Linked DNA regions of Homo sapiens: region 1 is linked to region 2. The links come from fine-mapping of genetic effects on gene expression. A gene starts in region 2. The other region holds a variant in brackets. All regions are shown on one strand. Distances are from middle to middle. Region 1 overlaps LINC01374 (long intergenic non-protein coding RNA 1374). Region 2 holds the start of LINC00865 (long intergenic non-protein coding RNA 865).

Region 1 (5,214 bases), 54 kb before region 2:
TGTTCTTTCTGGGAAGCTAATAGCAAACTGAAGATCACTTTGAAAGATAATTGGCTTTGGCTTAGTAACAAAGCCATGTTTATAGATGTCTCTGGAAAAAAAGAAACCCACACACCATCAAATAATATTAGAGTGTCATGGTCCTTATGGCCAGATTAAGACTACTTCCAGGTGTCTCCCTTCCTCAGTAAGCTTCCTGTTTCCCACCAAACCAAAACCAGAACATATTGCTGACCAAAACACAAACGGTTTATATCCAGCCTGTTCTTCCTGAACAGTATCCAACTTTATTTGGAAGCAGAAATTGCCTATTCTCTGGAGATGAGTTGTGATTAGCCAAATCAATTCTGTTCCTCACTTTCCCAGTCTCCTTGCAACTAAATATGGCCCGGTGATATAATCCTTGTCTAGAAAATATATGTGAAGGTGGCCTGATAAAGGATCTTACATGTCCTGCTCCTTCCCCATTTTTCCTGATGGCTGGACCTATAGCAGCCATCTCGTAGCCGTGAGGCAACCAACAGGAGAATGAAGGTGTACACGCGAAGAATAACAGTTCAGAATGATAGAAAGTAACTGGGTCCCTGATGGGAGAGTTGAGAAGATGAGCCTACAACAGTAACCACCTACCCCTGGAATGCCAATAATGTAAAAACAAAAATCTTAATAAATTATTGGTGTAAGCTACTGCTGGCGTTTCTAACTGCTATAACCTCCTTTTCCCAGGAAAATCCTAGAACCTTTGTCTGTGACACTATTCTTCCATTTACTCTGATAAAAATAAAAGAACAAAAACATCTTGTTGTCCATATTCTTACACCATTAAAACAACATGCACAGGGTTAGGATTTTCATCAGTTTGACAATTTACTAAAGTGTTTAATTTACTTCTGTGCCAGAAAAATCTTGTAGCTGCATCCAAACTGATTATTTATAACGTGAGATGTTATTTGAATGACAGTGTATTTTATTTTCCAATTACATTTTGTTTAAGAGGTAAAATATCCATTTATAAAACTACTGCTGCTATAAAATGGTTTTACTATTAAAATCTAGATCCCTTAATTTATTCATATAGAATCCATTATAGTATACAATTTGGATGGACTGGGGTCATAATAAGAAGTCTCTTTTAATATCAGAAACAAACAATAACAGAAGCAGATTTAATCTGTCAGCCTTAATCTTAAACTCCAGATAAATTCTGCTTTACCTATCTCAAACAAGTGAAACAAGAGTGATTAGAAGTTAATAAAATCAGTATGTAGTATAAAATAGATGCTAAATAAAGTTAATGAGTCAAGATAATATAATTCTGACTACACAGGATACTAGTTTATAGTATCTGAAGTTTCAGCAAACAAGTTGAATCCCAGCTGAGTTCCAACCTAACTATATGTACTTAATGTTCTTTAACATATAAGTTCAGGTATCCAAAATAGATAAATGAGAGCTAAAATAATAAACACTGTATAATTATTTCATACTCTTCCAAGGTTTTCATAAAATCTTTAATTGAATCCATCACAAAATTATTAATATATAAACTGGTCAATTCAAGTATCTAGTTTCACTATATCTTTTCATTACAGTAACCAGTTGCTAGATTGAAGTGTTTCCCACATAAGATGTTTCTTATGTAGAATGACTTGATAGGAGCTATAAAGAAAGGTTATGTAACATAATGGGCAGTGCACATACTTCAGAGACAAAATAGAGTTCATTCTTTGCAATTGATCACTGTGCATCCTTGGGCTAGTCACTTAATTTTACTGAGCTTCAGTTTCCTCCAAGGTTGAATCGAGATCATACCTACCTTTAAAGATTGTTGTGAAAATCATTTTATAAATAAGTATCCTGTCAAACTACAAGCCGGTGAAACCCTAATTTTATGATGCTAAAAATTAGTTGGTTCTGAATCACTTAATGCCTATATGAAATACCTGCAGTATAGATTATATGCTTGTAGCAATTCAAGTCCTAATAGAAAAAACCAAAGAGGCATCTTGATACCTTAGAAACATCTGGATAGACACAGATGAGAATTGTAAAGCACCAGAATGTCCTGAGACCTCTGAGGTGACAGAATCAAATCCCTTCCCCTTGTAAGAGAAGAAAAGCTTCCTCCTCCTTGGAGGGAGATCTTATAAAAATGTCATCAGATATTTGTCCTTCCCAATATTCACCCTCTTTTCCCCTCAACATAAACCCCTAATGCTACTACATACTGGCAGGATTTAGAGGAAAATGTGGGAGATAGAGCTGAGGGATGTTGGACAAGGAAGATAGAATATAAGTTTGGATAGAAGCAAGTGTATTAACATAGGAGTACTTTTCTATGATTCAAGGCTTAATATCATACAAAGCCTTTGTAACTGGTCATAATACGCTGCTGGGATAGGCTTGACATGGCAATGTCCTAGAATAAAATATATGGGGATGCTGAAACTGTGTTACTGTATTTTGAGGAAATGGTCAAAAGGCTTATGGAAGTGGAAGTGTTACAATATATTTATGAGAGCCTAAGAACCCCCCCACATGATTCTGTTCTCCAGAAGGATCCAGAGGACATTAAAGAATGCATTATTTATTTTCAGATATGGGAACAGCAGCATAAAACTATAATCCCTACAAGTGAATTGCGCCCTACAACTGATCCAGCTTATTGCTAGAAGCAGTTTCCAGGTTACAGCACAGGGAAGAGTACCCAAATAGAGCCCAGGAGTCTCCTTGAATTGAACAAATAGAAACTAAACTTTAGGGAAATTAAGACAACTAAAATGTGTAGGACAAAATACTGAAGAGGTAAGAGCTTCACAGAGGGAGACCTCTGGACTTCCACAGAGTGATCCCTTTGAGTCTTTGGCTGAGTACTGATCAGTACCTTTTTGTGGTGACACCTCACAAGGCTAGAGAAAGAAACACC[G/A]GACAGAAGTAGGATGAATAATTCCTGGAAACTACAGCAAGAGTGGAGAGATATCACCACCCCATCAGCCAGACTGAAGAGACCTTGTAATACATTGAGCACTGGGAAGCCTTGTGAGAAGAGTATTACCTTAGCAGTGACTCTAAGTTAGCCCTGACTGAAGCTTGTCTGGACCCACCCTAACAGAGCTTACAAACAAACCACTAAAGAGTTAAACTGATCCTAAGTAAATTGACTGAACGAAGCCTGATACTCTTTAAAGAAATACAATAAAATTTAATACCTAACAATATGAAATTTACAGTGTTCAGTGACCAACACACAAGGCATGTAAAGAAGCAGGAAACATGACCCATAACAATAAGAAAAATCAACCAATAGAAAACACTCAGAAATGGCAGAATTTAGTAATAGGATAGTAAAACAGCTATTATAAACATGTTCCATATAATCAGAAATATAAAGGAAAACATGAATATGGTCAAAGAGATACAAAGAATTGTATTCAAGTTACAAGATAAAGTCATCTTTTCTCTTCCAAGCCTCATGGTAACCTCAAATCTAAAAACAGACAATGGATACACAAAAAAATAAAAAGCAAGACATTAAAACATACCACCAGAAAAAAATGACCTTCACTAAAAGGAAGATAGGAAGGAAGGAAAAATGAAGAGAAGACAACAAAACAACCAGAAAACAACAAAATGCAGGAGTAAGTCCTTACTCATCAACAGTAACATTGAATGTAAATGGTCTAAACTCTCAAAACAAAAGACACAGACTGGCTGAATGAATCAAAAAGAAAAAAAAGACCCAATGAACCCAGTGACTTTTTGCCTACAAAAAACAGACTTCACCTGTAAAGACACACATGGACTGAAATTAAGGGGGATGGGAAAAGATAGTCCATGCAAATGGAAAACAAACAAACAAAAAAAAAAAACAAGAGTAATTATACTTATATTATATTAGACTACATAGCTTTCAATAGAAAAACTATAAAAACAGACAAAGAAGGTCATATAGTGAAAAAGCAGTCAATTCAGCAAGAGGACATAACAATTTTAAATATATATGCACCCAACAAAGGAGCACCCAGACATATAAAGGAAATATTATTAGAGCTAAAGAGAGAGAGAGACCTCAGTACAAAAATAACTGTAGACTTCAACACCCCACCTTTGGCGTTGGACAGATCATCCAGAGAGAAAATCGACAAAGAAATATTGGACTCATTATGTACTATAGACCAAATGGACCTAATAGATATTTACAGAACATTTCATCCAATGGCTGCAGAATACACATTCTCCTCAGGACATGGATCATTATCAAGGAGAGACCCTATTTTAGGCCACAAAACAAGTCTTAAAACATTCAAAAATTGAAATCATATCAAGAATCCTCTTTCACCACAGTACAATAAAACTAGAAACCAATAATAAGAGGAATTTTGGAAACTATACAAACACATGGAAATTAAACAATATGCTCCTGAATGACCAGTAATCTAGTGAAGAGATTAAGAAGGAAATTTTAAAATTTCTTGAAACAAGTGATAATGGAAAAACAACATACCAAAACCTATGGAATACAGTGAAGGCAGTAATGAGCTATAAGTGCCTACATCAAAAAGGAAGAAAAATTTTACATAAACAACCTAATGATGCATCTGAAAGAACCAGAAGAGCAAGCCAAATGCAAAGTTAGTGGATGAAAAGAAATAATAAAGATCTGAGTAGAAATAAATAAAGAAAACCATACAAAATATCAACAAAACAAGAAGTTGCTTTTTTGAAAAGAAAAATTGACAGACCTTTGGCTAGCATAGCTAAGAAAAAAGAGAGGACATTGAAATAAATAAAATCAGAGATGAAAAAGGAGACATTACAACCAATACCACAGAAATTCAAAGGATCACCAGAGGCTACTATAAGCAATTATATGACAATAAATTGGAAAACCTTGAAAAAAAATGAATCAATTCCTACACACATGAAACCTACCAAGATTGAACCATAAAGGAATCCAAAACCTGAATAGACCAATAACAAGTAATGAGATCAAAGCTGTAATAAGTAGTCTCCCAGTAAAGAAAAAGAACTAATACCAATTCTACTCAAACTATTCCAAAAAATAGAGGAAGAGTGAATACTTCTAAACTCATTGTATGACACCAGTATTACCTTAATACCAAAACCAGAGTCATATCCGAAAAAGAAAAGTAAAGGCCAATATCCCTATGCAAAAATCCTCAACAAAATGCCAGCAAACCAAATTCAACAACA
Region 2 (5,214 bases):
GAGAAAAGAGGGGTTCAGAAGCAAAGAATGCCTTCCGTAGGGCCGACTCATCCATTAGGCTGAGTAGGCATAGTGCTTGAGGGCCCATGACGCTGTTAGGAATTTACAAAAATGTCGTCATTTTAATTTCCTTTAAAATTAGGAGATAAAATTAATATAATAACAGTGACTATATGATAATAAATCCACCCTGATCATATTTACCTTTATACCAACGTGGCTGTAAAATAATTTTTATTTTTTATGGAGGAAGGAGCTCATGAAGGCAATGTACCTAGGACCGTGGCCTCCAGGAAAAAAAGGAAAATAAAAGAAACTGGATAGTTTCATTTGAATGTATCAAAAGGCACTTAAGACTTGTCAGAATTTGGCAGAATGAACTGATAATAACTACTTAGAAAACTAACTAAACAAAAATCAAGGCAATGCATAGTCAAGGAAAAACAAAAGCAAAGGTCTACAAAAAAGAAGTAAACCTAATACACTACAAGTTCATCTGTGAATAATATTTACATTGTCAAAATAAACACTAAACACTGATAAGATTTTTAAAAATATGATATTGCAAGATTAAGAAATGAAAGAAGAAGCTACATGCCCAGTTGTAAGACAGCCAACTCCTCATCTTTTGTAGAAGAAAGGCAATAGATAAGAACCAAACTGAAAAATAAATAGTATGAGAGGTATATTATAGGCTTGTGACAGTAAACAATAGAAAAAAAAACAGTTAAAAGAGATGAAAGTTGTTGCCTTTGGAGAGTGAGAATCAGAGATGGAGAAGAGTGGATAATGGTGTAATTTGCATTACATGACATACAACTTTTTGACTTTATGAACAAGAACCTAAGTTACCTTAATGAAATTTACAATTAAAGAACTTTAAGGATTGTTGAGAGTTAATATAATTAAATGAAGAATTTTCTACTTTTCTAAGTGTTTATGTATTAATTTTTTTAACATTTAAGAAGTGTGAAAAATGATTGAATTACATGGTAGCCTACTTAGATGCCATGAAAGATGTGCTCATGGGACATTAAAGAGATTGAGTAGACTGTGAGGCCAAAGTGAAATTCCAACCTGATGGAAGTGAACAGGGAATACTTCAAAAAGAGAAGAATGACTGAAAATGAGGAAAGTGAAAAATGCTAAAACTGGTTAAACAGAAGGGTCAGGAACAGTCAATATGTTATAGTCAGTATGGAAGAATACAATATACATTATGTATATGAGCTTTTCATGAGAAGACATGGGGGAAGAGTTAAACAATAGAATAACAACCATAATATTTTATTAATAACTATTATGAGCTGCTAAAATGGCATATATTTGGTAGGATATTAGTATATAAAAAAGGCTTGAGGTATTTAAAAATCTGTTCCCAGAAAATTATCCCCAAAAGTCAAAATATATATTTCATAGTTCTTTTAAATCCCTGACTTTCCAGCCACATATTCATACCACAATGCTGCACACTAAGCTGTAGATGGTTGAGTGATATGGTTTTGAAAAGATAATAAAAGAAAATTGAAAAGACACTCTTAGGTAAAACAAAAAGAAAATATTTCTCTCAGACAATTTAAAACTTAGGTAGTATAAGATAATTAGGGTTTTTAAAGAAGTCACTTTACAGAAGAAAGGAAATAAAAATTTTGCTGACCATGGCATATTTAAGAAAAAAAATCCAAGCAAAGAGGGGAAGAGTTATGATGAGCAGTGAGCAGTGAGGTATAAGCCCAACACTTTTCAGCCCACTGAAGTGTCCTGCCTACAGAACTCAAGGCAATTTCAGACTTCCTATCGACTGACATAGGTTTGGGGGTGCGGGAAATGACTCAAATGCTGCCCAAAATATATTTTTAAAAACTTTTTCCCTGATAAGCTTTTTAAGCCAGATAATGAAACCAAGTTGTTCGTGTTTCATATTTGAGAATCTAAGTACTGGATAAATAATAAGGGCTATCAATTATTGGGGGCTTTAATAATTCTTCAAACATTTAATGAGTGTCTTCTGGGTGCCAGGCGCTGGGACTATAGCTGTAAACTAAACAGGTGGCTACCTCCACAGAGTTTATAGTCTAAGGATTAAAAAATTAGACCTTGCACAATAGTGGGAGGAGACGGGGAAGTAAGGCCACCGTTGGAAGGTGGAGAATTGGAGAAAAGTCTCTATTCACCTCTCCTGAAGTAGTCAAGTGAAGGAAAAGTCACAGGTTACATATAGAGAACTGGGAACATCCAGTTGCAAGAGTGAGACCACAACAGGAGCTGGCGAAGAAGTGCATGGAAGGCTGTTGCCTCTGCATTGACTGTGGGTTTGGGGCTGCTGTTGGTCAGCAAGGCAGGCAGAAAAGGACACCAGCTGGAGTCAAGACAGAGGCAGGCGAGGACAAGCTAGAGCCCACAAGCAGTACATCTACACTTCTCTCCTTCCGCACCAGCTACACAGAGTAACGGTTACTCTTTCACTTCTGCTTCCCAAATCTGGCATAGATATATCTTTTGGCCAAACCTGATATGGAGACATAATGGAAATGAAGTTCTAGCTTAGGCCAGTTGATACAAAACCAGCACGGTCCATCCCTTGTCAAATTGGCGGCCGAGAGCACCTCCTTTTACCATATTTAATTTCCAGTAGCAAAATCTTGCTTCAACCTAAGGTGCAACTAACCCTGCTACAACTAGAAACACCCTAAACCTCTCTCCAATGAGGATATGAAGTCCCGTAGGACTTACCGCATAGGTCACTTTATCTTTGGGGAAAGTTCATCCTTTTCTAGCTGAGTCACACTGCCCTTTTAATATCCTGAGATACATGCTGAACTACAATACTATTGACACGTTTTATGTTCAATAGTAGAATGGATGGAGGAAGAGAAAGAAAATGAACCAGTATTATATTTGCAAAATGAAAATCAATCCTTCTGAAATATTTAAACGGTTTCTGCCTTTGTAGGAGACCGTTTGGTAACGTATCGAAATCCATAACGGCCGTGATTGGCGCGCAAGCGCGGGGCTGCCCAGGGGCCCTCCTTGCCTCCCGCCTTATGGGCCCGGAAGGTCCTTCTTTCCCCTAGCTTGGACTCCAGCTCCTGCCCGCGGAGCTTGGTCTAGCTGCGGGAAGCATTGAAGCACAAGGAGAGTACTTTTGCACAATGACCTCCAAATTTTACTTTGAGGACTTTATCATAGTGAAACTACCATGGCTGTAGCTTATATCGGTTTTTTTTTAAATGAAAATAACCTAATTATGCAACAGCGGGAGGGTTGCTTGAGTAAATTATTGTTAACTCCAAATGACAGAATAATGTATGAAACAATTAAAAATAATTTGTTAAAACAATGAATGACTTAGAAAGATTTTTATTATTAAGTGAGAATAAAAGCAGAAACCTAAAAGATATATTCAGTATGAGCTCATTTCTGTAAAATGATGTATTTTACAGAGGAGAATAAAGTTTAAAGCATGCAAACCAACGTGGTAACTGTATTAAACCTACTTAATAACAAGAAGCTATTCATAGTAAATAAGTTGAATTTATAGAAAGAAATTTACTATGAGGACAAAAAAGGATAAACAGGAAAATATTTGCAAAACAGATAATCTAACGTATAACCAGTTCCTTCAATTAAATAAGAAAATAAGAATCCAATAGCAAAAATGAGGACATGTTTAGAAAAAGAAATAAAACATTTTAAACATGTGAAGTGTTTTATTTCATTTCTGCTAAGAAAAAGCAAATTAAAACAAAAATCTAATATTATTTTAACCATCAGAAAGCTTGACACATTGAGTTGACAAGAGTAAAGGAAAACAGGCATCCCGATATATTGCCAGTGGGAGTAGAAATTGCTGACACCTCTATGAAAAAAATACGCAAGCCAAAATTTTCAATAATGTGCCCCTAAACCCAACAATTTTACTTTAAAGTGTAGACATTCATTGCAGCATTTTTTATAATCTGAAAAAAACAGAAACAAATGTACAGATAAGAACTGGTTAAATAAATTATGGCAAAGCCATACAATGAAATACTCTGTGATGATTAAAAATAGTAAGGCACTTCTTCATGCAATTATATGGAAAGATCCCCAATATATATCAAGTAAAGGATTTTAGGTATATAATGGTATAATTAAACCCTACCATTTTTGTAAAAATAAAATATGTGTGTATACACACATATCAGGTATGCACACCCACATTCCTATATGGGCATAAAACATCTCTAGAATGGAACAACAACAAAAAATTGATAAATTGCTCCCTCTATAATTTTGAGGAAGCTCCCAACAGCTAATTAATTTTTGTTCTTTGCCCTAAACCTGCCCCTTTTTTCATTTTTTTCATTTCCAAAAAGGTACTACCATTGATTGTCTCAGAAAAGTAGAAATGAGATTTGTTCCTTCTCTTGTCCTCACCCAACCCCCATTAAATCAGTTATCAAATCCTGCTAACTTTATTTCCAAAACAAGTCTCAACTTTATCTACTTGTATTACAGATGTTGGCTATTTATCAACGTTTTCTGTTCCTTTCAACCTTAGTCATAGACGTCCTGATTTTCAACTAGACCTGTAGTAACCTAGAGTAAACATTTTATTGTCTATCTTCCATTGTAATCACATGGGGCCATGCTACTGAGTGCTTTCCAATGAGCTGTAACTGCAAGCATCACGTATAATTTCTAGAAATTCTCTTACAGGAAAGGGATGTATCTTTTTTCCTCCCTTCATCATTCACGTTGTCTGGGATGAAAACAACATGACTGGAATTAAAGCAGCCACCGTCAATGAGGAGGTTGAAGTCACGTATTGACAAAATGGAAGGAATCTGGTCCCTAAGAATGGTGGAGCCACCAATTGAATTCTAGGCTATGTACAGATTTCAGTTATGCGAGAGAGGAATAAATATCTGTCCAAGCCACTGTAATTTGGAGTTTCAGTTACAGCTACTCCAAATCCCAAATGATAAAATGTCTCTGTATTTCAATGGCCAACCACCTGACCAAAGCCCAGTCCATTTCACCTGAACTGCTGCAACAGCTTCCTAACTGTTCTATCCACATCCCACCTTGACCTCTTCCTCTGCTGAATTCTCCACACCTCAATAAGAACATGCTTGTAATATATATATGTATATATACGTATATATACATATATATGTATATATACATATATATGTGTGTATATATATATATATATATATATATGATCGA

The links. PIP is the estimated chance that this variant, and not a neighbour inherited with it, causes the effect. A credible set is the group of variants that fine-mapping cannot tell apart.
Region 1: its variant is the best candidate, but not a certain one, in a credible set for the expression of LINC00865 in whole blood (INTERVAL, PIP 0.74).

Annotation. Positions count from the first base shown.
Region 1 is chr10:89,881,104-89,886,317 of GRCh38, reverse strand. All of the region lies in intron 1 of LINC01374 (long intergenic non-protein coding RNA 1374), which reads right to left. Among named protein-coding and RNA genes, the nearest start is that of LINC01374, 30 kb to the right of the region's middle. The variant G/A (reference allele first, on the strand shown) is at 2,927.
Region 2 is chr10:89,827,265-89,832,478 of GRCh38, reverse strand. It overlaps LINC00865 (long intergenic non-protein coding RNA 865), which reads right to left and starts at 2,986. Exons shown (of 4, transcript NR_038382.1): 1 at 2,734-2,986; 2 at 2,175-2,509. LOC105378424 (a long non-coding RNA gene) reads left to right here and starts at 1,658. Exons shown (of 3, transcript XR_946196.3): 1 at 1,658-2,447.